Homo sapiens: one gene and its partners. The protein of the gene in region 2 purifies or fractionates together with the protein of the main gene of each other region. This does not show direct contact. Each region holds a gene or a part of one and is shown on either strand. Other genes may lie near its edges. The genes, in order: ARHGAP26, C2CD2, ARHGAP10 and SEC14L1.

Region 1 (7,023 bases), on a different chromosome or scaffold from region 2:
AACCATCATAGTAAAGATCAGCTCAGGCAAGGATTGTCAATGGATGCTAAATCTATGGAGGTAAAGTGTGATAAGGAGAAGGATATTTACATGATCTTAAGGTGTTACCTTCAGATTGCTAATTAGTTACAAGGGGAAAATAGTGACTGTATAGTGGAGAAACCAGACAATACCTTGACTGGGTGATCAAAATTTACATCACCACTGAGGGGCAGGTCGACACCACATGTGTCCAGATGTGGCCCCAGAGAAGAACTCTTATGTAGGATTTGACCAGAGATGCATAATCCAAATCTAATCATGAAGAAACACCAGATAAACCCATGCTGAAGAAAACTGTATAAAGGAACTGGACTGTGTTGTTCAAAAATGTCAATGTCATGAAAGACAAAGAAAAGCTGGAGAACTGTTCCAGATTAAAGGAGACTAAAGTCATGACAACTAAATGCAGTATGAGGTTCTGTACTGGAGAACAACAAAATGCTTTAGAAGGCCATTATTGATACAACTGGCAAAACTGGAATACGGACTGTAGTTCAGATTAAATATTGCACCAATGTTAAATTTGATATTAGGTTGGTGCAAGAGTTCAATTGCGATTTTAGCCATTACTTTTAATGGCAAGAGTTCAATTGCGATTTTAGCTATTACTTTTAATGGCAAAAACCATAATTACTCTTGCACCAACCTAACAGATGTGTTTACATAAAAAGAATATCTTTTATTCTTAGAAAATACTCACTACTGAAGAAGCATGGTATATGCAACCATATTCTCAAATGACTCAGAAAAAAGTGTGTATGTGTGTGTATGCAAGTTGTACTCACGTGAATACTCACACACCCACACAGAGAGAGAAGGAATGATATCATTGTGGCTAAATGTTAAAAATTGATGCACTGGGTAAAGGGTTTATGGTTGTTCCTTACACCATTGTTGCGACTTTTCTGTATGTCTGAAATTATTTCAAAATAACAAGTTACAAAAAATTTAAAATTAAAAAAAAAGTGCTGTATCCCCATCATGTGCTCTGGACTGTGTTAGGGAACAAAAAAGTGTCCTCATGATAATCAACACACTAATGTTGAAAGAGCATGTGAAGTGTCTGAATAAAAGTGTGTGACATGAGAGTGCAAAAAAACAACATTGATTTTATATATGTAAGTGAATGATATATTAACAAATTAAGTATTATAGGTGGACTTTGAACTATATTTTTAGAGTCCTAAAAATTTATATTTTCAAGTAGACCTAAAACCTTTTGCAGGGATCTTCTCACTGGGCAAAGAGGGGATCACTTTGTATTCAGGCATATACAAAACACACAGCTGAAGTAGCTACATTTCTTATAAACCTCAACAGGCTCATCTCTGTAAGAATAAGGAATGTAATCCTCATCACAGCCAATACTCCAACACCACTACTGCCCCAGTTACCAGGAAACTTAAGTCCAAACAAATTTTTGAGTAATTACTAAATAGAATAATTAGTGAAACCAAGTATTTCTATTCTATCCCATCGGAAAGCTATTAGGAGTGAAGACATCTGCCTAACTCTACATGAAGAGCAGGACATGAAAGAACACAAAACCTGCAAAAATCTGAAAAGACCAATGTTCTCTACCAAAGGACTAGGAGAAGAATTACCCACTAAAGAAAAAAACATTCACTTTCTTTCGTTCCTAGCATTGCATACACGAATTAAGTCTGAATGTGCTATCCTAAACGGCACGGCCCCATCACAGAGCCTTTCCCCAGCCATAAGGCATGAACTTGTGAGTCATCACTAAAATGTCCATGTTAGCAGCACCTGGCATTCCTTTCCTAGACATCACTGGCAGAACAATGAGTATTCTTGGCTCTTTTTTTTTTTTCTTTTAAGAGACAGGGTCTTGCTCTGTCACCCAGGCTGGAGTACAGTGGTGGCAATCTCAGCTCACTGCAGCCTCCACCTCCTGAGCTCTTATAAACCTCAACAGGCTCACTCCGGTAAGCAATCCTCCCACCTCAGCCTCCCAAGTAGCTGGGCCCACAGGTGCACACCACCACACCTGGCTACTTTTTGTATTTTTGTAGAGACAGGGTTTCACTATGTTGCCCAGGCTGGTCTTGAACTCCTGAGCTCAAGCAATCCACCGACCTCAGCCTCCAAAAGTGCTGGGATTACAGACGTGAGCCACCGCATGCAGCCTTCTTCTTGGCTCTTGAAGTGAGCCTTTGTTCCTACTTTTCATAAAATTCAAGTGTTGGAATGAAATGAGTTGAGGAGAAGAGGAAAAAGGCCTAAGTCATGATTGTTTGGGCCTTGCTGAAACAATGTCAAATGAAAACAGAATCACCAAGTATTAAGTCTACCAAAGGATACACTGCTGATAGATAACAGGGGCCTAGCATGTAAGACCTTTCCAAGGCTGCTATGCTCAGGGTATGGTACATAAAGCTGGACTAGGGGTACAGGAACCCCAAGAGTAGAGTAACATTAGAGAGAGAAGAGCAACCACAGAGCCTTAAAGAATTGCAGGTTCCCAAAGGAATTCCCATTCATAAAGAAAAACAAAGGTAGACAAGATTCTGTGGACATCATCTTTCTCTTTGGAAAGGTGAACTATAAAATTGTTCTTGTTATCCAAGCATGTATCTACAGTAAGGTAGGCACTGCTGAATACATCCTCCACCTTCTAGGTAAGAGGCCTGAGTACATCCCAAGCTGTTGCTAGTCAAAGCACTCACGTTTCTCCTGCACGTAGAGGTATCCCTCCATGGTGTAGGGACTGATGGTCTTGTGCTCAAGGGGATTCTCCTTCATCTTTTTCATCAGTGATTCCACTTCTGATCTAGTGCCTTCAAAGCGATTTCTTGTCTAGGATGAAAATAATTTTATTCAAATCAAAGAAACAAAGTATCTGTTTTAACAATCCAGATCAACCTAATAGAATCCTTAGATCTAAAATGAGATAAAGGACATTCAACCTTCCAGGAACTGGCCAAATACTCCCTTATGACAAGTATACTTTGGCCTTAAAGTCCTATACCAGAATGACTCTCAAACTCTAGTGACTATCAAAATCACCTAGGGATCTTATAGAAAATGCAAATGCCCAGCCCTCACTCCTACAGATCAATTCAGCACCTCTGGATGCCAAAAAGTGTGTTTTACGATAAGCCTCCCAGGTGATTCTGATTCAGATGCTCTAGGGGCCTGTATGACTTAAGGACCTAGGCGTTCATTTCTCCAGCTGCCATGAATGTTGCTTGCTGATGGCTCACAGATGAGTCCCTCCTTAAAAGGGGAGTTCCTTCACTCAAGGTCAGCCTGCACCCAATGACTAGACAAGGCTAGAGGAAAGGCAGAAGGGGGTTGAAAGCCTGGCCCCCTTGCTTGTATTCAGGGCGACTTTGAAGGATCATCCCAGCTCCAGAGCCTCCCCTGCACTGAGACCTCTGCTGCATCTGCATCACAGCTCTATTTCCCCCTCTGCGAGTCCAGGTGCCCTCACTCTGTCACAGGTGTTTTCACCAGCATTGCCCCCACCTCCAGTAAGCCCACTGCATGTCAATCTCGATTTCAGAGCCTGCATTCTGAGAAACCTGGCCTAAGGGGAAGCCATGCTTTGTGAAACCTTTTCCAAGATTCTGCAACTTCCTGTTCTCTGAGACAACACTGACTACTATGTAACCTCCAGGCTTCTAAAACCCATGCAGTACAACCCACATGGACACAAGATCACCTAGAGACAAAGAAAATAAGAAGAATAACATGGTCCAATCCCACAGTGAAGAAGGGGGCTCAAGCCCCAGTGACTGCTAACCAAAAAGCCCTACGCAGGATTCTGTGCACCAAAAGGTCCTGTGTTTAAACCTTGGGAATGCTGACCACACTGGGAGCGAAGCACGGACTTGGATTTCCTGCCAGCCTTCCTAAGAGTTGGACAAGAGAACATCCTTTGAGCTGGAGGCCAGCATGTGTCCCCAGCCCCCATTCCCAGAACACACACTCCACACGGTCTCATGTAGTCAGGCAGCTAGATGCATAGAATGGAGGCTGGGTTGGGCTGGGATTTCCACCGCCAAAGGAAATCCTGACTCCAATGCTACAGACGCTACAAATTTGAAACATAACCAGCAGCAGCACTTCCGAGAACATAAATAGGGCTTTGAAATAATGGAGAAGAGGATGATGGTCTAACTCAGAACCACCAAGCACTCTAGAAACGCCTGCCCCTAGTTTCCCTCTGAACCCAAGCAAGACCCACCCTCCTCACCTACATTCCAAGCCACCTGGATGGTTTCTAGGGCAATCAGGCCCATATTTTGTTTTTCCTTAACCAGATAAAAGAAGCCTGTCCCTATGCCCACTCACGTTCTGTATGCTAATGGTTAACTGTGTCTTGAAGTCCCCGAAATCCTTGGCCAGTTCGTAACCATGGTGATAGAAAGTGAAGAGTCCTTGCAGGAAGGCCAGCAGCTGTAATGAAGGAAGAAAGGCAAAGGTCACATAACCAGGTTGAAAAGAGGTATTATGTAGCTGTATCTGAGCTCCCAACACTGGCTTGAAAGTCTAAAATAAAGAATAATAATGGCTGACATTTAAAGAGCACCAATTGTGTGCCAGGCACTATGCCCTTCCATGCCCTGGGTGAGTACTCACAACATCCCATGACCTAAGCACTACTGTTATCCCCATTTTAATAATGAGGAAGCAGGTTCAGAGAGGTTAAGAAACTTGCCCCAAAACACACAGTAAGTGGCAGCCAGAACTTGAAACCAGGTCTCCTTGGCATCAACACCCATGCCCTTGCCCTGTGGGCCTCACCACCTGCTGAGAACATCATTTCCTCAGAAACCAAAGACCAGGGTTCTGACTCAGTTTCCCTCTAGTACATTTGTAGTATCAGGTTATTACACAGAAGAGGAAGGCAGAAAAGGAAGTGGGGTGTCCTGAGTCTACAGTCTAACAGGCAAAGTCAAATCAAAGAAAATCATCCAACTGAAGTGTGTTTCCGTGCTTTCCCCAAACTACTCAAAAGTAAACACTATGGATTCCTTTATTAAAATATTTCCATATTCCCACATTTTCACTTATGGTGGTTTCCCTAAATTCTCAATTAAATCCCTCAGGCTAAAAGGTAAGCCCGTTTCATTGTTTAGTCTTGTCTTTAGTGAATGGTAAAAACATCTGTTCACCACAATGCTCACCACACGGCTTCATATACTTAAAAACTATTAATGTCCCCTCCCTGAGCCCCTACCAGCCTTCATTTATCCAAACTAAACAAACAGCATTCCTGTGGTCTTTCCTCTCGGAGCTTACATCCAAACCTCACTGTTGTTATGCTTTCCTGGCCCCTTCTCAAGTTCTACACATCTTCCCTCAGTTCTAAACTTCAACCTGAAGAAAGGATTATAATAAAAGCCCGAACGAGATTTAGGAAAGACCAGTGCCTCACCTCTATCACAAAGCACAGCTCCATGGTATTTGGGGACTATCCCATTAACTTCGGCTTCTGAAGGCTGACCCACATTTTCTGAGGGGTCCACTCTGACCTCCCTGACCTGCCATACCACCTTATTCCAAGACACATTTGCTTTATTTTACATTGTGGTCTTCAGATTTTCAGTCCCTAAATGATTTTTTTTTAACCTGTTAAACATTACTTATTATGTAAAAAAAAAATTTACTTTACTTACTAAACATAATCCCATCCCACTTATTTTCACCTAACTAACTCTCCTTTTCTGAGAGGCAGCTATAATAAGTGACGGTAAAGGAATCTCATCCCGCCCCCCCTCCCCCTACTCTCCCACCTTGTTTGCAGCAGGAATAGTAAGCACAAAAGTATATAGCACTGGACCTAAACTCAGAGGGCAGGCCAGCCCAGTTTAATCAAAGATCTGGGCCCTGTGAAGATAAAACCCAGATTATGACAATATGGCCCTTAACTTCCCATTGCCACTGTCCCCGGCCCATCTATCCCCTTAGATTCTCATGGGTGGTGGGAGAGTAGGCATTGCTGGGTCCTCTGGCTATAAAACTATCCAGTGGCACCATATACAGACCCCTAACATAAATCCGTGAATGAGTGGTAAGCCCCATGGAGTCACTAGAGACTGATAATGAATGTTTTTCTTCAAAGACGGCCGAAGGCTTTGGGCTTATTCTATACAAAATACTTTTCTGAGAGGAAGACCCATACCTTTCCTTTTAGATGGCTCCAATAACAGAGGAGAGGAGGCTCCTCTGCCAAACCGAGTCCCAGCATTCACAGTGAAAACTGTTTTGCCTCTTCTTAACTCTGCTCTCCCTGCTATCTGCAAATGCCCTGCCCCATCGCCTTTCCAAGGCATGACACTACCCCTGACTTGAGAATAACGCAGAAGATAAGCAGTTAATTCCAAGGTCATTCCTCCTATTAACTATGATTTATCCTTCACTCATAGTAAACAGAGCCTCTCTTGCTCGGGGTAATTAAATATTCTCAAACAGCTCACTAAGATGCCACCTGGGCATACCCGCAAGTGCTCCCCAAAGGCAGGGAGTTACTAATATTTATTTTGTTTTTCCTCCTTTAGTCTCATGCCTTGATTGTCCATTTTTTTATGGGAAATGACTCCTTAACATATTGCTATTTTTGGCCCACTTCCCCCTTGCTTCTCTCCTCCCAGCACCTTTTCTCTCCCCCACCCCCAACACTATATGAACCTTTGAAGTATTACAAAGTGGGAAATGAAAGTCCACTCCTCAGGGGGCAGGATGAAGCCCACGGGACTCCAGAGATGGGGGAGCTGTCTGCTTCAAAGAAATGCTTCTACCCAAACACTAGGAGGAAGAGCTTGCTGCAGTCCCACCTGGTTATCAAATAAGAGGGGTCAGCTGTCCACGGGGCAACCACAACATCACAGCCTGACATAGGAAAGATCTTTCCCGCCTCCCTGTGCCTCCTTCTCTATCCTTGTTATCCTAAAAGAATAACCATAAGCAAAACCTATTCCTACTTCCTAGCTGACAACATAATTTATTTTTTTC
Region 2 (7,564 bases):
CAGTCTGGTCTTCACTCTCAGAGACTGTTCACGCGGCATCTGAGGCTCACCTGGGGAGTTAGTGCAGTTACTCAGCATTGCTGCTTTCCTCCTGGGGAAGGCATCATGAACAGCATCTCCATAAGTCATGCAAATGATTACTAGAAGAACTCACGGCCCCTCTTCGGGGGGAAAGCCCTGTCTGGCGCCGGGCCAGGCTCTGGCCACGGGTGACCTTTGGTTGGGTCCGCCGGCTCCGGTATTGACCCTGTGAGCAGTACAGGAAATAGACTCGAAGCACATTCCAGCCTCCAGGTGGTGGAAATGACTAAGCCAGTGAGATGGAGCCAAGGAGATTGGGTCAAATGTCTCCACAGCCTCTCTGGTCTCCAGAAATCTCGCTTCCCACAGCAGCTGCCGAGGGCACTGAGCCAAGTGCTAAAAGCATTTTGCTAAGAGGGAATTCTCGAAACGTCTGCCCCCAAGTGCTGCTGGGGGGAAGCTGTGTATTTCCACTTGCTAGAGGTCCCTGGTAGGGCCTGTGAAGTGACCATCACAGCTCCCCGGGGCCCCCAAGGTGCTGGTCTCACAATATTGGGGCACAACTTGATAATTCAAGCAATACTAATAATGTGAACTGCTTCAGGGTGAAGGGGAAACTTTTCACTCAGAGACAAACTATAAACATTTTGGACGCTCTTCTTTTCCCTGCTTCTAGAAATTTAAGAATGACATTGAAAACTTAACAAAAGTCCCACATTTTTCTAAAAGAATTTTTTAAAACCCAAAAGTATAACAAAGTATAACTGTTTATAGACGTGCGATACATGACATACATGACACTAGACATATCTATTAATTTCTAAAAATGTCACAGCATCCCAGAACCTCCTGGGCTTGGGAGAGGAAGACGTTCAAAGACTTACAGCTTTGAGGCAGGGATGAGGCACTGCACCCAAGACTGGGTGACTCAGCAGAGATCATCCAACAGACAATTCTCATCTCCACCACCAGCATTTAGAAATGTTTTAAAGTGAAAAATAGAACAGTGGCTCTTGACTGTGGCCTCAAACCCAGCTACTGTAAAGCATTATGAAGAATTTAGACACTTGGCTTCCTCCTTCCCGCCTGGAGGCCTGCCATGCTAGCGAAGGCAGCCCTGGTTCAAGGTTTCTGGTGGACCCAGCAGATGGATGGGAAGCGGGCTTAGCTTGACCTAAACAGCTGGGAGCTGGGAGCTCAAGGTGAGCATGCAGGAGGGGCCACAGCCACAGTGCTTTCCCTTTATGAGCAGCTAAAAATAGCAAACAACCACTGCAGAGTGACAGAGACCCATTTGAAGGTTTTGGTGGAGACAGAAGCCCTCCCCGGGCAGAGCTGCAGTCTCACTCCTTGGGTGGAAGGGAGATGTGGTGGAGAGAGAGGTGCCGGGAGCAGGAAATGTCACTGGGGGTGAGGCAGAATCCTGTGCTCTGGGAGAACCCAGCCCTCCAGTGTCTTCTGCAGTGGGAGAAGGGGACTGGGAGTTGGTGGATGTGTAGGGCTGGGAGCTTGTGTAAAGGGAGCCTGCTCTTTTTCATAGATTTATAAGATGTTTCTGTTCCGATTTCGTGTTTTGGCCAACTGCATTGTCCTGCAAGCCTGCATCATTCCTTATTTTCCCTCGATTTGCTTCTACACGTAAGTAATCCAATATCTACATGTTGACATTATCTTTGAAAACACTTAACGGGGCTAGGCACAGTGGCTCACACCTGTAATCCCAGCACTTTGGGAGGCTGAGGTGGGCAGATCACCTGAGGTCAGGAGTTCAAGACCAGCCTAGCCAACATGGTGAAACCCCGTCTCCACTAAAAATACAAAAATTAGCTGGCGTGGTGGCAGGCGCCTGTAGTCCCAGTTACTCGGGAGGCTGAGGCAGGAGAATTGCTTGAACCTGGAAGGCGGAGGTTGCAGTGAGCCGAGATTGTGCCACTGCACTCCAGTCTAGGTGACAAAGTGAGACTCTGCCTCAAAATACAGAAAGAAATTAAAGAAAGAAAGAAAAGAAAATTTGTCACATGGAAGTGTGACAAATCCCAAACTAGGGGTGCTGGTTAGTTTACAGTTTGTTACAAGCCTCTAAATAAGTAAGTGGGATGGGCCAGCACACCTGAGACCTGAAGGAATGAGACGGGTTCCACCGGTCACACAGGACAGGCTCTCGTCACTGCCCACACAGCCGCAGGCGGCCTGTGTGCACACATGGCACGGGGAACACTGGGCCCTCGGATTCCTCACCCCGGTTATTCTGGCAAGGGGACCAGCAGGACTCGAATTATCTGACTGCATAGGTCTAGCTACAGGTCAGAACATAATTAGACTTTTCTGCCAAATAAGAAGGGATTTCTTTTGTTTCTGCCTAAAATAACACAGAATAGAAGAAAAGAAGAGCAGTTCCCCCCACCCTTAAGAGGCTGCGGCAGACTGGAGCGCTCGTGTGTAACACATGGGTCACTTGCAGGATGCTGATGGTCTCATTCTTAATTTTTTTTTTTTTTTTTGAGACGGAGTCTCGCTCTGTCGCCCAGGCTGGAGTGCAGTGGCGCGATCTCGGCTCACTGCAAGCTCCGCCTCCCGGGTTCACTCCATTTTCCTGCCTCAGCCTCCCGAGTAGCTGGGACTATAGGCGACCGCCATCACGCCCGGCTGAGTTTTGTGTGTGTGTGTGTTTTTAATAGAGACGGGGTTTCACCATGTTAGCCAGGATGGATAGTCTCATTCTTATTTCCACTTTCTGATAACAGACCTGGCTCGCAAGGGTCCATCCCCAGCTCACCTGGGCAATCCCCGTCTAATTTCACCTCCCTGACAGCGTCCTATCCTGTTCCCCACAAAGGCTCTCCGTCCAGCTGCTGTGCCATTCCTTCCTCTTTCCTGAAGAAAATCCGGGCCCACGGATTCAGGGCCAGAATCCCCTCTGATGGACCATCCACTGGCCCCGCAGCAGACTCCTGGCTAGGGAAGAGAAGGCCAAATGCTCAGTCTATCTAATTCCTTTCAAGGTCAAGTCCCCTTAATACAGCTGCAGAAAATAACAGGGGAATCACTTTTTTATGGTTTAGGCCTGTTTTAGGCCCCGGAGAATCTCAGGCTAGTATGTTTCTATGGCACTCCCTAAGGACCGCGTCCACTCTGCAAGAGGAGGGCACAGGGGCATGTCCCACACACCACACCACACACACACACACCATACCACATGCACCACACTGACACACCACCCACACACCACGCCACATGCACCGCACTCACACATTACACATACACACACTCCACATCCATGTACCACACATACACACACCACCGTGTTCACCACACACACAAACCACACCACATGCAACGCACTTACACAATACATATACACACAGCACCACACCACACCCATGTGCCACACACACACGCTCACATCACCCTGTGCACCACACACACACGCACCACACTGACACACCACATACATACACCACACCACATCACACATACACACCACACACACCACATGCACCACACACACACACCACATGCTGTGCACTTACACATCACACGTACACACACCCATGCACCACACCGACACCACACACGCACCACACCACATGCACCACGCTTACACATCACACACACACACCACACACACACACCACACACACTGCACTTATACATCACACATACACACCCATGCACCACCATACACACTCGCACCATCCTGTGCACCACACACCACACACATACACCACATGCTGTGCACTTACACATCACACGTACACACACCCATGCACCACACCGACACACCACACACGCACCACACCACATGCACCACGCTTACACATCACACACACCACATGCACCACACTGGCACGCAACACACATACCACACCACATGCACCACGCTTACACACACACCACACCCATGCACCACACATACACACTCACACCATCCTGTGCACCACACACCACACCCACAACACATCACACCACATGCGCCACACACATCACACCACATGCACCCCCGCCCCACCCGCACACTGAATGAATGACACAGCCACACAGAAGGCAGGGCCTGGGCCTGGTGCTGAGCCCCTCCTTGCCTCTGAGAAGCACGCCCCCTAAGGCAGGCCCAGCCCCTGGCTCCAGGGGCAGCCACGGATTTCCAGGGACTTTCCGAGGACTGAGCCTGGATCCTGTCTCGCTGGCGAGCAAATGGCAGTCCTCGAAATCACCCTGACTGCGCGCTGTGCACACGCACACTCACACATGTGCACACACACGCACTTGTGCAAGCGCGCACACGAGCCAAGCCAAGCAGCCGCACAGCAGCCGCCGGGGTTGGGCTGATGAATCCGGAGGCCCGGGTCACCTCGCGGCCCGCGGGCAGGCGCCGGAGGGGCGGGCGACGCGCGCACGTGGCGGGGCCGGGAAGGCCGGGCCTTTAGGGGGGCGGGGGCACGCCGCGTTGGGAGCAGGGGGGAGGACTGCGGCCCCCGCAGGCCCGGCCGCGCCCCCTCCCTCGGGCACCGCCCCCGCCCCGCCCCGCCCCGCGGCCAGAGCCTCCTCCGGCCACCGCTGGGCCGCGGGCGGGACGCCCGGGGCGGCGCGCGCAGGAGGAAGCGCGGCCCGCAGCGGCCCAGGAACTTCCCAGACGCCGAGTCGGGAGCGCGGGCCGCGGGGTCCGCTCGCGCCCCTGTTCCGCAGGTGTGCGGGGCTTGCGCCCAGCCCGGGCCGCGGCCGCCGCGCGTTTCCTCCCCGCTTGCCCGCCCAGAGGCCCCCGGCCACGCTCCTCGCCGGGCTCCGACCCCGCCGCGCCCCCTCCACGCCCCCAGCGCGCTGTGGCCGCAGCCAGCGCGTGTCCTGAGTCCGCCGTTCCGGCCCGGGGCTGCCGGGGAAGTTGGGGCGAGGCGGGCCGGGGATGCGCCATGGCCATGGCCCGGCTGGGCTCGTGGCTCGGGGAGGCGCAGTGGCTCGCGCTGGTGTCGCTCTTCGTCGCGGCCCTGGCCACGGTAGGCCTGTACCTGGCGCAGTGGGCGCTGGCCAGGGCGCGACCCCAGCCCCAGCGGCGGGCGGTGGAGCCTGGAGAGGGGCCGCGCCCGGGGTCCGACGCGCTGCTCTCCTGGATCCTGACGCTGGGCAGCTGGAGGAGCCAGTGGCAGGCGGCCTGGGTGACCGCCCTGAACGAGGAGGCCGAGAGGAAAGGGGTGAGTTTCCGGGACTGCGGGCCGGGGGGCGGCAGATGCCGGGGCGGGCGGTCCGGGCCGAGGTCTTTCCTGGAGGCGTCGCTGCAGCCCCTGACCCAGGCTAAGGGAGTCCTCCCCCCAGCGCAGACCATCCTCGAGAGTTAGGAGAGAGACGGGGGAGCGAGGCCCCTTGACGGAGAGACAAGACAAAGTGATTGATTTTATTCTCCAAACGGCAGGTGCTCCAGGCCCTGGGCTCCGCGAGGGACAGGCTGGCAGTTGGAGGGACCGTCAGAAGTGCTCATCCGCGCCAGCCAGTACCTGCCTTGCCTGGAGTCCCGGGGCGAATTCCCGTGCCCGATCGGACACTTACTGAGCTTGCACATGATACATGAATAGCTGTGACCCCAATGTGCTTCCGCCTCTCATAGAGCTGAATTTCACCAAGAATTTATCTCCAAAGACTTGCATTTCTTGGCATATAAAAATAGTGACCGTTTGCTGAGGGCCAGCCGCTGGGCAGACATCCTACCGAGGCTTTCGGTGCGTCTGCCATCTCTGAATCCTCACAACTCCCGGGACAGGGGTGTTATCACTGTTTTACAGATGAGGAAACCAAGGCCCGGAGAGGGCAAGCAGCCTGCCCAGTGCCACACAGCTCGTGGGCGGCAGAGCTGGCATGTGAATCCAGCTGCCCTGGCCTGCAAGCTAAGGGCCTCGTGTCTTACCTCTGCTGCCTCACAGTCCTGTGGGTGTTTCTGTAGTCGCTGATTACTCGTTGACTTATTTTTGCTTTTAAGACATCTTAGTATAACGACAAGCTCCTGGCATGTACTATTCTTAGGCATTTCACAGGAGAAGTTGGAGCCTGGGTGGGTTTGGGGAGGCACCCCTAGTCTTGGCCGCTGCTCCGCCCTTCCAGGCCACAGTTTCCTGCACATGCCTGTGCAGCTCAGTGGTCATTCGCTGTGGAAATAGCAGAATTGCTCATTTTCAATGTCCGGCCCCATCAACCTTCAAAATATTCCATGGCGGGCCCTGTGCCTGGTCCTTGTGCATGGCCTTGGAAGACATGGCCATGGAATTAAAAAACAAAAAAGCTTTGACTATCAGTTAGCAGCCATCCAACAAATCAAGAGACCTTGTTTTGAACTCTTGAAAAAGAACATAAATGACTGTACTTTTTGGAGGAAAAAGGCTTCAGGGTCAGTTGACTGACTTTTGTCCTGGTGCCCAGAATCTGTGCCTCAGCTGTCCAGAGCTGGAGAGTGTCTCAGGGAAACCAGCTGTCTCTTGTGGGAGCCCTCCACCCCTGTTGGCCTCACATCCAGGAGCAAATGCAGGTATTTCCCCAGGAAGCTGCCATCACTGACCCCTGACTGACCTGGAATCAAGGCTTCTGAGGCTGAGTCCCCTCCAGGCTGGTGGCTTGATTGGGCACCAGTCTCATCTGTGTCCTTTGTAGGAGGCAGGCAAGTGTTGGGTGAATGACCTTTAAGTTCAGCTTCTAACTCTGGAGTTTCAGGCTTAGAGGCAGTGACCCTACCTCCTGTATATTTGGGATGGTTCGTTTCCTGACATCTATGGATTGGCTTCAGAAAATATGATCCTCTTGGATATGATCCTTCCATATTCCCATCTGACTGAAGTGTTGAGAGGCAGAGAAGAGGATGTCCCTGGCATCTGTCTTAGGCTGGTCAAGTCAATCTGAGAACACTGAAAGAAATATTTGAAAGTTTTGGATGAAAACTTTTTACTTGAGTCTTTGTGTGGGAGCAGGGAGGGGTTGCGTTCAGGGAGAGGAGAGAGGGTCTCACCTTGTTTGCGCCTTCTCTGTTCTCTCTCTGCTGTTGGCCACACACTGCAGTCTCAGACACCTGTCTCTCCTGACCTCCTGCCTGGAAGAGGCAACAGTGTCCCGGATTCATGCTCAAAGCAACCCAGGGCCATCTCTGGCATTTTTGCATGGACATAGTCCATTAGTTCTGTGATGTCAGTTTTTGGTATTGCTTACTTTCCTGGGGACGGGGGTGGGGGAACACAGCCCTGATGCCTGGGAATGTCATTTGATTTGCATTCAAATGGAAGGTTTTGCAGGCAGATAGGATCTGGGTGACTGGGCTCCCTGTGAGTGACGGTCACACACCCTCCCGGCATCCTGAGCCGTCGCTGCCGTGTCAGTGATGGCATTGTGGGTGAGCAGGTAGTGGTGTTTGCATTCCTGGCCGCCCCGAGTCCAGCGATTGTCACACACATCCCAGCATCCTGGGCCATCGCTGTTGTGACAGTGATGGCGGTGTGGGAGAGCAGGGGCTGCTGTGTCCATTCGTGGCTGCCCTCCCCCACCTCCATTCCCACTAATCCCGGATTAGGGCTGACAC
Region 3 (7,501 bases), on a different chromosome or scaffold from region 2:
GTAGACCCATATTTAACTTTACAGGTAGGTACTTTGTGAGTCATCACAACACAAAAACTACAGTATGGTATGCAGCAGAACCTACATCAAGGGAAGGTTTCCTATCTGTTAACCTCTATTTCATGTAGACTGAAACTTGACCAGCTTGCATTGATTCAAATCCCTAACTAATCCAAGCACTGAGTAAAGCATAAAAATGCCATTTGGGTGTCAGTGCCTACATGACTTAAGTACTTGAATGTCTCCCAGGCATCTCAAACATTTCATGAGTTTATACTGAAACGCATCCTTCCAACCCAGTCATCACCAACACTGCCATGACAGCTTCTTACCTCATGTTATCCTTTCAGTAAGTGGCATATCCATCCACCTAACTTACCATGCCACAAGCCTGGGGGCCACCGCTGACCCCTTCTTCCTCATTTCCAATATCCAGGCTATTGTCAAGTCCCAGAATCTCCTTCTAAAATATACTTCATTTCTGTCTATTTCTCGCTGTTTCCTTGGAGGGTCACCTTGGAGGATTGAGCTATTCCATTTCTTGCCCAGACAACTCCAACCACCTTCTGTCTGGATTTCCATTCTCCACACAGCAGCTAGAGAGAAAACACAATCCGGATCATTTTACTACATGCATAAAACTCTTTAAAGGCTCCCAACAGTGTTGGGATACAGTCCCAAATCCTAAATAAGACTTAGAGGCTCTGCACCATCTGACCCTGCCTATCCTCCACCACCTGGCATAGTTGTGAGCCAGTCTCTCTCACTGGGCTTCAGCCACCGACCTGTTCATCTCTTGAGTGTGCCATCTCAGGGGCCTGCACAAGCTGGTCCCATGTCTGTACTACTCTGTTCCTACCCCTATTTAACAGTTAACTCCTACTGATATTCCTGGTCATTGATTAAATTATCATTTTCATATCACTTCCTCAATGAGGCCTTCCTTGACCCAGCCCCAATCTCCATCAGGTGTTCCAATTATAATCTCTCACACACCCTTCACTTTAACTGCATGGTGCTTCAATTTTCAATTGGATATATATGTGTGTGATTTTTCTTTTTCTTTTTTTTTGGGATGAGGCCAGTCTCCCCCAGAGACCAAAAGCACGGTGAGGACTGTTTTGTGTGCTGCTGCATCATGAGCACCTAATACGGTGCCTAATACATATAAATGATCAGTAAATATTTGTGGGAATAATTGATTAATTAAGATGAAACCTGGAAACTCAGTAGCATCTGCTTTTGTGGCCACTTTTCTTGAGTTCTGTCTTACATGGTTTAAAACCATGATTTAAGGGCTCTCCTGCCCCGAAAATCTTTCCCACATTGATGGAATGTAATCTGTCTCCTCCTCTCCCTCATCCCTCTCTTCAGCCCATCCTCCACACTTCCTTCTTCCTTGAGTCTCATTATTATCATAATTTTCAGCAGGCACTTTACAAACACAATTTCATTAAATCTTCTCAAGCAACCTGCAGCTGCAATGTCATCATCTCCATTTCACTGATGGTAAGTCTGAGGTTTACAGAAAATTACCTTTGCTAAGGTTGCACAACTGTTAAGTAGTAAAGCTGGAGCTGGAACTACTAAATATCTATCTTTCCACTGTCCACTGTACAGAGATTTCTCTTCAGTTAGTTATACTTATTCATTCCACATTTACTGATCACTTGTATACCAGACACTGCATAGGCATAGCTGAATAAAACAAAATTAATCAGGCCCCTCCACTCATGGTAATTATTGTGGACCTATTTGGTAATGAATTAAGATTCATATTCACTAGCTCTTTAACACTGGGTGTACATGTGTGTGAAGTGATAAGTAATATTTTTTATGATGTTTTGACATTGTTTTAAACAACTTTTTTTTTTCTCCAAATATCTAAAGAACTGGGCACACTGAATAAACCAGAGTTTTTACGGCTTGAAGTCTAATGTGGTAAAGGAGAAGCAGTTCTAGAGTAGTTCATCTTAAAAAAAATTTTTTATTGAGATATATTTCACAGACCAAAAGAAATCCACCCATTTATCACATACAATTAAGTGATTTTGAGTATATTCAGAATTGTGCAACCATTACCAAAATGTAAATTTAAATTGTTTTCGGCCAGGCTCGGCGGCTCACTCCCATAACTCCAGCAATTTGGGAGACCAAGGTGGGAGCATCATTTGAACTAAGGAGTTTGAGAAAAGCCTGGGCAACATAGTGAGACCCTATCTCTATGAAAAATAAAAATATTAATAATTTTCATCACCCTGAAAATAAACTCCTGACTACATATACCCTCCACTCTATCCCCCAGTCTCTAGCAACCACTAATCTTTCTGCCTCTATAGATTTACCTGTTTTGGACATTTAATATAAGTAGATAGTATTGGCCTTTTGCAGCTAGGTTCTTTTACTTAGTATAACGTTTTCACCGTTATTGTGCCGTAGCACGTGTCAGTACTTCATTCCTTTTTATTGTAGATTAATATTTCATTTTATGGACAAACATTTTGTGCATCCATTACACAGCTGACAAAGGACATTTTGGTTGATTCTACTTTTTGGCTATTACGAATAATGCTGCTATGAATATTTGTGTGTAAATATTTGCGTGGACATATATTTTCATTTCTTTTGGGTATATATCTAAGCGTGGACTTGCTGGGTCACACGGTAACCTCCATGTTCAATATTGAAGAAGTCTCAGCAGCCCCTCTATGAGAAAAGGTTTGGGTTTCTGCTCTGAGGATTGAGTGTGGTCAGTGCTTGGCTGTTTCGCTAGGCCCTCATTTTTGTTTACACCCCCTCTCTTCTTGTCTTTCTTCCCCTTTATTTGCCTCTTTTATTCTCTTTTCTGTAGACTCCAGTCTCCTGCTGGTTTTAGTAGGAACTGAAGCTTTCACCGCCTAAAAGTTATTTGTAAAACACTTTGAACTCTCTGGAGGATGGACATTAGAGTAATAATGTTTATCTGTGGGTTAGGCACTCCTGGTGCTGTTTTGTAACAAAAGGGCTTATTGAGTAGGAGGCTTATTTAACTTGTTCGGGAGGGTTACCCTCCTACAACATGCTGTCCAAACAGATTCTTAATTACCCAGCTGAGAGTCTGAACGTCTTGAGGAATTACTTTGAAGTTTCTCGTTAATATTACCATCATATCATGTAAGTCTATATCGCGAGTTTGTAGATGTATGGAGTTCCTAGTGGGTGCCCGGCACATAATAATTGCTTAATAAATTGCGATTATGAAACGTTACTCTAATGAACTATTAGTGTTTTTTTTTAAGAAATACTTTTTTTTTTTTTTGAGACATTGTCTCGCTCTGTCGCCCAGGCTGGAGTGCAGTGGCACCATCACGACTCACTGCAACCTCCGCCTCCTGGGTTCAAGCGATTCTCCTGCCTCAGCTGGGACTACAGGCACGTGCCACCGCACCCGGGTACTTTTTGTATTTTAAGTAGAGACGGGGTTTCACCATGTTAGCCAGCTGGTCTCCAACTCCTGACCTCAGGTGATCTACCCGCCTCCGTCTCCCAAAGTGTTGGGATTACAGGCGTGAGCCACCACGTCCGGCCTAAGGTATACATTTTAATACTTTAAAATGCCTAACTTTTTTTGGGACACACTGGAGTTGTTTCATAACACACAAAATAGGCTTTTTGAGGGCACTGACATAAATTCTCATTGATCGTCACCCCCACGCGGTGAAAACCACACGTTACCTGGCATGTTTTCCGGTAGTTATTTTTAGAATAATAAAGATCGTCTTCACCTACCCCAGCAAATTTAATGTGCTGAACACAACAGAAACAACTTTTCTGTGGTTTAGCCAGCCCTCTCTCTTCAACTAAGTTATTTAGTGCGGATACGCAGAGAAGTGTAATAGGAGCTGCTGGGCCACCAAGAAAACGCTCTTGCCATTGTAAGGCTTCGATCTCAAGCGGAGATTTACCACGCATCTCACTTTAAACTGGGAAAGGAACCGGGATAAGGAAAAGAGCCCCCTGTGCGAGTTCGTTCCCAGCTCGGGGTTGGGGGCGTCCCAGGATAAATGAGATAAATGAGTTAATCATCTCCTGCAAGGCAGCCACTTCAGAGTTATGTCGCCCGCCTGCGGGGACTAACGACTGCAATTAAGACGCTCCTTCTCGGTCCCGGTCGGGTTCCGTGCAGCGGGGAGCCGACTGTGAGTCACCCCGGCCCCGGGAGCCCAAGCAAAGGGGAGGGGAGAGCGCCCAGGGTGGAGGGGAGCCGCGGGGCGAAATTCTAGCCCCAGGACGCCTCGGAAGGAAGAGGAGGGGCAGCTGCGCGTGGGGAAGAGAAGGAAGAGGCGTCCAGGGAAGGGAAGGGAGGAAGAAGGAAGGCGGAGGAAAGAGAAGGGGACGAGCGGGAGCGCGGGCCCGGCCGGGTGGCGCCTCGGGGAGTGTCTGCCGCGCGGGGGCCGGGCGGGGCGGGGCCGCGGGCGCTCAGAGCTCGGCGGGGGCTGCCGGGATTGGGGCGCCGCAGCTAGCGCTGGTCTCGGTGGCAGCTCCTCCGCGCCGCAGGACTCGGCTCTACGGGACATGTCCGTGCCGCGCTCGCCGCGCGCCCGGGCCTGCTAGCTCCTCTGTGCTCCCTGAACGCGCGGCGCCGCACCTGGCAGCGGCCTCGGAGCTCGGCTCGGGCAGGAGCGCGCGGCCGTGCGCACCGCGCAGCGACCGCTGCCGTCATGGGGCTGCAGCCCCTGGAGTTCAGCGACTGCTACCTCGACAGCCCGTGGTTCCGGGAGAGGATCCGCGCTCACGAAGCGGAACTCGAGAGGACCAACAAGTTCATCAAAGAGCTCATTAAGGACGGGAAGAACCTCATCGCTGCGACGAAAAGTAAGCGGGGACGCGGGCGCGGACGGGCTGCGGCGTGGCGAGGCGGCTGGGGGAGCCTCTCTCGGCAGGAGACGGAGGGTCTTGTGTCCGGGGCCAGCAGCCAGAGGAACGGGGAATTCATTCCGGACCAGCCCAGCTCTCTCGGAACCCCGGGGGGTCCCTGGAATCATTCCTCCTCGAGGCAGCGCGGCGAGTCCCCATTCCCGCCCCTGCGGCTCTGCGGCGGCGGGAACCAGCTGCCAGCGGGCCCCGCCTGGGCCCCGCCTGGCCCCGGCCGAACACCCCTCGCTGAATGCGCGCTCCGCTGGACCGACCCTAGGCACTCCTGGCCCGGAGTCAGGTTTCATTGCTGCCTAAAGCTACTCACAATCTCTTACAAAACCGAGGCATCTGTTTGCCTAGTTTTGTTTTGTGACTTCTCAAAAGAAATTTCTTGGGGATTCTTTGAAACCCTGCGGGAGTGTTGAGTTTTCCAGAGTCCCCTTAAGCTTCACCTTTTCCCTCTCATTGTCTGATCTTCCCCGACAGTCCTGTTCCAGGTCCTTCACGTGCCAAACCAGAAAGTCCACCTGGCTTTATGCTGCTTCCGCACATTCCTCCCCTGCCGTGCTGAGGAGGGTTCAAAGATTGGGGTTTGGAAGGGTGAGCGGACAGCCTGCCCTCTAGCCTAGGCGGGCACTGCTTGCAAATAGGGAATTCCACCCCGGTTAGGCTTGGTGCCTTCCTCCCCTGAACTTCTGTCTCTTAAACTCGGAAGAAGACACGAGATACAGGAGAGATAACTGTATTTTAGTGTAGTTGAGGAGAGTCTTTCTAGGAGAGAAGGGGCCAAAATTCATGCAGAAATACTGAGTTAGTGATGCTACTGGAAAATGGGGCGGAATTAGCCCCAGTGAGGAGCTGGGCAGCCTGACCATCCCTTGGATCCATAACCCCTTCGGAGGATGGCGGTGAATGTCCCCTTTCCCCCTTTAAAAGACCTGTCCATACAGCAGACAGGGACTTGGGCAGTATCCAGCCTTGAGGGGCTGGGTTCTTAGGGCCTTCATCACTCACCTAGATTCTCAGTTCAGTAATTCTCAGCCTTAGGTATTCGTCCCTTGTACATTTGTTTGTAGATACCACCTCTGGGGAAAATCCCCCATCTCACTGTTCTCCCGACCGCGCCCCGCCCCATTTTTCAGTAAGGGCGATTAAAACATATTGATTATACTGTCTCGGGCACCCAGCATGGTGCCTGGTACAGTAAATATGCATTTAATGAATAAGTTGAAGTACATTTCTGTGGGAAGAATTTAGTGAGCCATCCCTGTAATTTTGGAGGCAAGTCACTCAACTTCTCTGGATGATCTCCAAGGTTCCTTTTGGTTCTCTGACCTCTTTGGTGTTGCAAAATCAGGACTGGGACTCACTTAGGGTTTTTTTGTTTTGTTTTTAAGTCTCTGCTGCTTGAATCAGAAATGGGACTCTGGGACATGTGACAAGTGGGCTTATTTGGTTGAGGGCTCTCCAGGCCCTTGGCATCTGGTATGTGTGTTGGGTGGGAAGTAGGGGGGCGCCTATACATATGGAGGAGTGAGCATAGAAAGGAGGAGTTGGGAGCGGGGGTGCAGAGTGAACACGAGAGAATGAGGACTGAGGACTCTTTCTGTAACTTGATGTTAACCAGAGTCAGTGGCCGGGAGAATGTACCTTCTCTCTCATTGGTTGTAGTAGTTCCCTCTGGAGCTAGAGAGGTGTGGAGAGAGGCAGAGGGCAAAGCCAGTTTGGCCACTGGTAGAAAGCTATTTCTGTGACAGCATATTAGCTTTCCTGCCATCAGGACACATGCGTTAGGTTCCAGCAGCAGCCAGTGCATCTGGGGGGCCAGATGTCAGCTTTCCTCCAGACTGTAGACTTTCTTGAATTTGTGAATTAGTATCTTACTCATTTTGATTCTCGTCCTTTAGCATAAGAAACATAACTTGTAATCATGCTTTGAGAGTAATTGGGAAGTGTCTTTTTTTCTCGTTATGTTCATTAAGAATTTATGTTTAAATTCTTTCCCAGAAGGTGACAGGAACACAGCTGTAGCTCACATGCCTTTTCCCGCTTGCTCCATAAAGTTTACTTCTAGTTCCTATCAAAGACTAAGAGCCTTGGACTAAAGTCAGGGGACCTGAATTTAATTCTTCTTCACTGGTTAGGGCGTGGCTATAGGAAAATTGAGCAGGTCTTATTCTTTTGCGTCCAACTTCCCCTGTCTACCTCTTAGGGGAACTAATAAGGTTCTGCAGCATTTGAAAATGGCTTGATGAGGTTATTTGAAACTGCAGTCTAGGTAAATGGTTCATCTAACCAGTTGAGCTTTTGTATAACATCAGAGAGTCAAGGGATGACATTGGGTGGAGGATCTACAGAAAGAATAAAACCCACTAGGTCAGATTATTTATATTTCCAGATATTTTATATTTTATTTTACAAAAATGACCTTTTGAGCATTTCGAGAAGTGTGTATTTAAGTGATTTCTATTTTTAATTGCCCTGCACGGTGTCTCCTGTTTGCATTACATTCTTGGAAGATTTCAATATGTAATTTTGATGGCTTGATGCTTTGAAGTCTTCCATAAATATTTAGAGTTTTGAGGCCTATGCGACCTGAAGGCTT
Region 4 (6,988 bases), on a different chromosome or scaffold from region 2:
ACCTCTGCCTCCCAGGTTCAAGCAATTCTCCTGCCTCAGCCTCCAGAGTAGCTGGGATTATAGGCATGTGCCACCATGCCTGGTTAATTTTGTATTTTTAGTAGAGACGGGGTTTCTCCATATTGGTCAGGTTGGTCTTAAACTCCCAACCTCAGGGGATCCACCTGCCTTGGCCTCCCAAAGTGCTGGGATTACAAGCGTGAGCCACCACGCTCAGCCACAAGAAAGCAGTAATTTCTTAGTATCATTATATGTTCAAATAGTGCTTAAGAGGTTCCACAGGCTGTTCAGGAAGCATGGCGCTGGCATCTGCTTAGCTTCTGGTGAAGCCTCAGGGAGCTTTTAGTCTTGGTGGAAGGAGAGAAGGGGGAACAGGCAGGTCACATGGTGAAAGCAGGCAGAAGCTCCAGAGAGTAGGGGGAGGTGCCACCCATTTTTAAGTGAGAAGATCTCATGTGAACTTAGAGAGAGCTCACTTATGGCCAAGGGGATGGCCCAAGCCATTCATGAGGGATCTGATGACCCAAACGCCTCCCACCAGGCCAGACCTCCAACACTGTGGATTACAATTCAACATGAGATTTGAGTTCAGACTATCTCAGGGCCTACATTCCTGATCATGAGGAATAAGACCACCTGCATCCACACAGCTTAGCCATCAGGACTGAGACCTAAGATCTCTGTGTCAACATGACTTACTATTTGATCCAGGAGATTCTTGTTCAGGAATATTAGACTGTAAACCAATACGTGCTTTCACTGTTTGCCTCAACAAATTCCTGAAAAAGCATTTATTGTAACAAAAGATTGCTTATCTTTACATATAACCCCCTTCTCTGGATAACAGTATAACCACCCAAGGGGTTCACCTTCCCTGCTGCCTAGAGAGAGCTGATTCATCAGGACAGGAGGATTGCAATAGAGTCATTCACACAGAGCTGGCTGTGCAGGAGATTGGAGTTTTATTATTACTCAAATCAGTCTCCCTGAACATTCAGGGAGCAGAGTTTTTAAAGACAACTTGGTGGGTCGGGGGAGGCCAGTGAGCCAGGAGTGCTGATTGGTCAGGGAGGAAATCATAGGGAGTCGGAGCTGTCTTCTTGTGCTGAGTCAGTTCCTGGGCGGGGGCCACAAGATCAGATGAGCCTGTTTGTTGATCTGGGTGGTGCCAGCTGAGCCATCAAGGGGAGGATCTGCAAAATGTCTCAAGCACTGATCTTAGGAGCAGTTTAGGGAGGGTCAGAATCTTGTAGCCTCCAGCTGCATGACTCCTAAACCATAATTTCTAATTTGTGGCTAATGTTAGTCCTACAAAGGCAATCTAGTCCCCAGGCAAGTAGGAGGTTGGTGGGCAGGGTGCTGTGGTTCACTCCTGTAATACCACCACTCTGGGAGGCTGAGGCAGGCAGATCACAAGGTCAGGAGTTTGAGACCGGCCTGACCAACATGGTGAAAGCCCGTCTCTACTAAAAATAAAAAAATTAGCTGGGCACTCGCCTGTAATCCCAGCTACTCGGGAGGCTGAGGCAGGAGGGCAGGAGAATCACTTGAACCCAGGAGGTGGAGGTTGCAGTGAGCCAAGATCGTGCCACTGCACTCCAGCCTGGGCAACAGAGTAAGACTCCATCTCAAAACAAACAAACAAACAAAAAAACAAAAAAAACCTAAGGAAAAAAATAGCAAAAAGTAGCCAGGCGTGGTGGCACATGCCTGTAGTCACAGCTACTCAGAAGGCTGAGGTGGGAGGTTCACTTGAGGCCAGGTGATGATGCTGCAGACGGCTATGATTATGCCACTGCCCTCAAGCCTGGGGAACAGAGTGAGACTGTTTCAAGAAAAAAAAAATGGAAATAAAGTTTTTTGTGATTGGTTGATGTCTCAAGTCTGTTTTTTCTTCAAAATGTTTAACTGAAGTATAATATACATATAAAAGCTTGCAAATCATAAATGAATGTATGGCTCAACAAATTTCCCAATCTCTTTTAATCTATAGATTGACCATTCCCCTCTTTTTTTCCTTTGGAATTTGATAAAGAATATATTTGTCTTGTACCGTTTCCCACAGTCTGTACTTTGCCAATTGTTTTTCATGGTGTCATTTAGCATGTTCCTCTATTCTGTATTTCCTGTAAACTGGTGGTTGCATCTAGAAGTTCAGCAGGTCAGGTGAATTTTTTTTTTTTTTTTTTTTTTTGACACGGAGTCTTGCTGGAGTCCAGCCCAGGCTGGAGTGCAGGGCAGGTGGCGTGATCTTGCCTCACTGCAACCTCTGCCCAGGTTCAAGTGATTCTCCTGCCTCAGCCTCCCAAGTAGCTGGGATTACAGGCATCTGGCACCACACCCGGCTACTTTTTGTATTTTTAGTGGAGACGAGGTCTCACCGTGTTGACCAGGATGGTCTCAAACTCCTGACCTCAGGTGATCCACCCACCTAGGTCTCCCAGACTGTTGGGATTACAGGCGTGAGCCACCGCAACGGCGTTAAAGCGTCTTTTGAAGGTGGATGTGATTTTTTTTTTTTTTTTTGGGACGGAGTCTCGCTCTGTCGACCAGGCTGGGGTGCAGTGGCGCGATCTCGGCTCACTGCAAGCTCTGCCTCCAGGGTTCACGCCATTCTCCTGCCTCAGACTCCCAAGTAGCTGGGACTACAGGCGCCCGCCACCACGCCCGGCTAATCTGTTGTATTTTTAGTAGAGACAGGGATTTCACCGTGTTAGCCAGGATGGTCTCGATCTCCTGACCTCGTGATCCGCCCACCTCGGCCTCCCAAAGTGCTGAGATTACAGGCGTGAGCCACCGCGCCCGGCCGGTGGATGTGATTTCTACAAACAAGCAAAAGCCAGTCAGACTGAATGTAGTGAATAATGTAGGTGACCCAGCTGGAAGATGATGGTTTGACGTGGAACACAAGGGGTGATGAGGCCATGAATGATTTGCTTGTGTGTCTGGTAAACTGGCTTTGATGGAAATTCCTAAACAGGTCCAAAAACGTTCTGTCCAATGGCAGCATGAAATGTACAGCCACTCAGGGTGACTAATGTGAACGGAACAACAGTGACTTTGACAGTGAAATTGCATGTTGGTTATAAAACCAGCTTTGCTGTGTGGGTGGGCATGCGAGGTGCCCCTTTCTAGTCATGAGCTCCTCTTAAGGACCCCAAAATGTCTCAGTGGTACCGGATTGAAAATTGGGGCTGGACGGTGCTCTCCTGCTGAAATTCGGGAGCTACTTAGCAGCCCCACCTTGGCACCCTCGTTTCCGAGGGGCAGGCCCTGGGCGCGCGTCTCAGTTTCAAGCCCGCGGCCCGACACTAGAGCCGTCTGGATGTGTTGACAAGGATGCCGCTGGGCTCCACCCGGGCTCACCCGGGCCCTCCCGAGCCCTGGGCCGCGCAGCACCGGCGTCCGCCTCCTCCCCATTACTCGGCGAGAATGCGGTCGGGGCACTGGCGCGAGCAGCCTGGTGCTCCTGAACAGTCAACAAGAAATGAGGAAGCACGGGGGCAGCCGCCAGGGCGACCAGAGGCAGGCCTCAGAGCAGCAGCCATACGGGAGGGCCCCGGTGGTTTTGACCTCCCGCAAACTTCCCTTTTCCCGCTCAGCCGAACCCCTCCCCTGCACGCCGGCAGCCCCTTGGGGCTTCACTCCGCCTCCGCCCGCTACTCGCGAAGCCCAGCCCGGCCCCGCCCCCAACAAGTGACGCAAAACTGGGAGGGGCCACGAGGACCTCGGGCACATCCAGCAGTGCGACGGGGCCGGCGCCTTCTCCGAGCTCCTCCCACGCTCGCGGGTCGGAGCTCGCGCCTGCGCAGTTCGGGCCCCGGGTGTCCTCCCCCCTCCCCTTTCTTAGCAACCATCGCCCGCTCCCGCCCCCGCTCCCTCGGCCGCGGCCGCGCACGCGCGCCCCTCCCGGCGCCCGGCCCCGCCCACCCCGTCACCCGTAACAACCACAAGTGCCGTCGCCGCGCCCCTTCCCCCTCCCGCCTCCCCGGCCCCCTCCCCGGAACCGGCGGTCGAGCTACGGTCGCGGAGCAGTGGAACCGAGACTGCCCCGCGGAGCCGCCGGTATGAGCGCCCCTCGCCACCCCGTGTCCCAGGCCCGGCCTTTCTGACAAGAGGTAGGCGCGTCGTCGCGGCGGGTCCGAGTGCGCCCTCGCCCCGGTCCCGGTCTCCGTGGAGTCCGGCGCCTCTCGGGCGGGCCCCCCGGAACTCCCGGCCGCCCGCTTGCTGAGCCTGTCCCTCCCCAGCCCCGGCTGCCATCGGCCCGGCACCCGAAACGGGCCGTGCCCCCGCCCCCCTGCTCGCCCTCCGCCCCCCTGCTCGCCCCTCGCCGCCCCTCGCCCCCCTCCCCCGCCCCCACCCCCACCTCGCCAGGCTTCCAGTTCCCGGGAGCCGCTTTTTGCTGAGAGCGGAGTTTCGGGTCCGGAGCCAGTGCCCGCCCCTCTCTCCCGTCGGTCGGGGCTTTGGCCCCGTGGGGCTCAGCCGCGCGGGACCCCTGCTGAGCAGCCCCGGGCGCCGGCCGCCCCTCGAGCCTGCTCGGGATGCGTTCAGTGGGTCTGGCCTTTGGCTCCTGTTTAAACAGCGATTGTCATGCAATGGAGGCCGTCCGGCTCCTGGATGCCACTTGGTCGTTGTCACTCCGGATGCCCGCGTAGGGCGTTTATCTGGACCAGAGCATCGGCAGCTGAGACCTGGCTGTGGTTCACAAGCTCGTGAATTAGCAGGTTCTTAAGTGAGTGTAGCCAGTTCTGCCAGGCGGTGGAATCCTGAATGGATGTTACCGTTTCTTAAACGAGCATTACGCTTTTTTGCTTCTTCCCCCAACTCTTGTTTGTACCCGGTTATCGTCCTCATATCTGGGAGAGTACCCTAAAATTAATATTCCCAATTAAATTTTTAAAAGATGATTGGATTCCCACTGTGCACCAACACTGTAAGGTTTGCAAAAGAAAAAGAACGTGGTCCCAGCACATCAGGATGTGTCAGTCGCATAATCAAGATGAATATTAGAAAAGCTTCAAGTTGAGTTTGGAGAACTTGGGAGTTTGGCTCTCATTCTCATGGTTTTAGAGGTGGAAGTCTTTCAAGATCATCTCCCCGAAAACCTCATTTTACAGAGATGAAACTGAGTCCTAGGGAAGTCAAATGGCTTACTCGTGGTCACCCAGAGTCATTCCTTAGCCGTTTTCACACTGTCAGATGGCGATGTTTTCCACCATGACCTCTCCTCTGAGAGGTATGCCAGACATACCAGAGAAAGTTCCAAACCTGTTTAAACCTTAGTACTATAGATGGGAATTCTATACCAGGCGCCGTGACTCATGACTATAATCCTAGCACTTTGGGAGGCTGAAGTGGGCAGATCCCTTGAGCCCAGGAGTTTGAGACCAGCCTGGGCAACATGGGGAAACCTTCTACAAAAAATATATATGGTGGTGCGTGCCTGTGGTCCCAGCTACTTGGGAGGCTGAGGCAGGAGGATCACTTGAGCTTAGAAGGTGGAGGCTGCAGTGAGTGGAGATTGTGCCACTGTGTTCCACCTTGGGCAACAGAGAGACACCCTGTCTCAAAAAAAAAAAAAAAAAAAAAGGAATCTTGGAAGTTTCTGAAATAAAATACATCTTGGTAATTTGTCTCTCTCTTTTTTTTTTAACAGCTAGACTTCGGGCTCCTTGAGGATATTCAGTTTTGTATGTTTGAATATCCTCTCACCATGTTCAGCATAAAGTACCATTCTTAATGATTATCCTCAACAAGACAGGTAGGCTCATTCGATTTTTCTTTCTCACTTTAAATAGGGGAGACAGAGGACTGGCAAGTCCAGGTGTGTTTTTAGAGCAATCCGTGTAGGCTGGCGCTAGAGAATGATTATGCACCCATAAGGAGGGCTCCTTGACTGTGAATTAGGTGTGAACATTTAACCGATTACTTACGGATATTAGCTATCTGAGGCTAGAGATTTCAGTGGAGCCTGTTTAGCCAGAATACTTGGCATCTCTGCCACTCGAAGACAGGTCGCCAAAGCTGTAGTGTACACAGTTAGAAAATAGGAATTGACACGTTTCCTTTGAAGCTAGCTTTTGAGGAGTATTCCATAGTTTGAGATACAGTAGTATTTTTTTCCAGTTTTATTTTTGTTTTCCCAGAGCTAATATCTTAACACGAGATCATTTTTATTTGGCTTCTAGTAGAAGTTGTTTAAGAGAAAATGATCCAAGCATTAATTATATTGGTTATTAGAATAATAGAATCATAACAGTTCATTGCTGGAAAGGACTCAGGTCAGGTCATGTAATGAATGCAGAGTCCCAGTAAGCCAATGAGAGGATTGGACCCCTCTCACACCAGTACTGTTTGCCTCATTGCATTGGGGCTTTGTCTGCTTTTTCTTATTGTTTAATTACCTCCCCCTGCCCTCATGTATTTAAATATCATCTTTTCATTTTTGTGTGCATAGAATTATGACCTATTGTGGTCTCTTTCTGTCGTTAGAGTGTGGTATGATGTGTCAGTGCAGACTTACTAATAATTTGTTTCTGCATTGTGGTTACTTATCACATATATTTATGTTTTGCAGGTGTGAGAGGGTTGCTGTTGTATTGCAATCATGGTGCAGAAATACCAGTCCCCAGTGAGGGTGTACAAATACCCCTTTGAATTAATTATGGCTGTAAGTACTTGACATTTCAATTTACTCTTTGGCTTCTTATTTATAAAGTACAGTGTTAGAATTTGATGATCTATAGATTTATTGTTCGTCTCCATGGCATCACTTGAACTTACTCTGTTTTTATGCTTATGAACCGTATCTAGAGTGTGTAAAATGTTTTTAAAATACAAGCCTCTGAAAATAAAAATCTGCTTATTAAAAAAAATGCACCTCAGGGTAATGTATGAATTGAAGTTAATTCTCCCTTTGAACACACAGAAGTGGGATTCTAAGCACTTCTTCCTCGGGGTTGTGCTCTTTTTTTCCTTCGTTAGAGTA

The links.
Region 1: the proteins of C2CD2 (region 2) and ARHGAP26 purify together in Homo sapiens (affinity purification with mass spectrometry; 3 studies listed by BioGRID and IntAct, with this or other methods). This does not show direct contact.
Region 3: the proteins of C2CD2 (region 2) and ARHGAP10 purify together in Homo sapiens (affinity purification with mass spectrometry; 3 studies listed by BioGRID and IntAct, with this or other methods). This does not show direct contact.
Region 4: the proteins of C2CD2 (region 2) and SEC14L1 purify together in Homo sapiens (affinity purification with mass spectrometry; 3 studies listed by BioGRID and IntAct, with this or other methods). This does not show direct contact.

The regions. Positions count from the first base shown.
Region 1 is NC_000005.10:142,899,376-142,906,398, reverse strand, and holds part of ARHGAP26 (rho GTPase-activating protein 26), read right to left. Parts: intron 4,465-7,023; coding exon 4,360-4,464; intron 2,860-4,359; coding exon 2,730-2,859; intron 1-2,729. UniProt on the Homo sapiens protein: GTPase-activating protein for RHOA and CDC42. Facilitates mitochondrial quality control by promoting Parkin-mediated recruitment of autophagosomes to damaged mitochondria.
Region 2 is NC_000021.9:41,951,010-41,958,573, reverse strand, and holds the start of C2CD2 (C2 domain-containing protein 2), read left to right. Parts: upstream 1-4,555; 5' UTR 4,556-4,925; coding exon 4,926-5,204; intron 5,205-5,423; exon of another isoform or gene 5,424-6,520; coding exon of another isoform or gene 6,521-6,526; intron 6,527-7,564.
Region 3 is NC_000004.12:147,727,602-147,735,102, forward strand, and holds the start of ARHGAP10 (rho GTPase-activating protein 10), read left to right. Parts: upstream 1-4,486; 5' UTR 4,487-4,700; coding exon 4,701-4,854; intron 4,855-7,501. UniProt on the Homo sapiens protein: GTPase-activating protein that catalyzes the conversion of active GTP-bound Rho GTPases to their inactive GDP-bound form, thus suppressing various Rho GTPase-mediated cellular processes. Also converts Cdc42 to an inactive GDP-bound state.
Region 4 is NC_000017.11:77,136,990-77,143,977, forward strand, and holds the start of SEC14L1 (SEC14-like protein 1), read left to right. Parts: upstream 1-3,979; 5' UTR 3,980-4,118; intron 4,119-4,366; exon of another isoform or gene 4,367-4,450; intron 4,451-5,656; 5' UTR 5,657-5,761; intron 5,762-6,577; 5' UTR 6,578-6,607; coding exon 6,608-6,670; intron 6,671-6,988.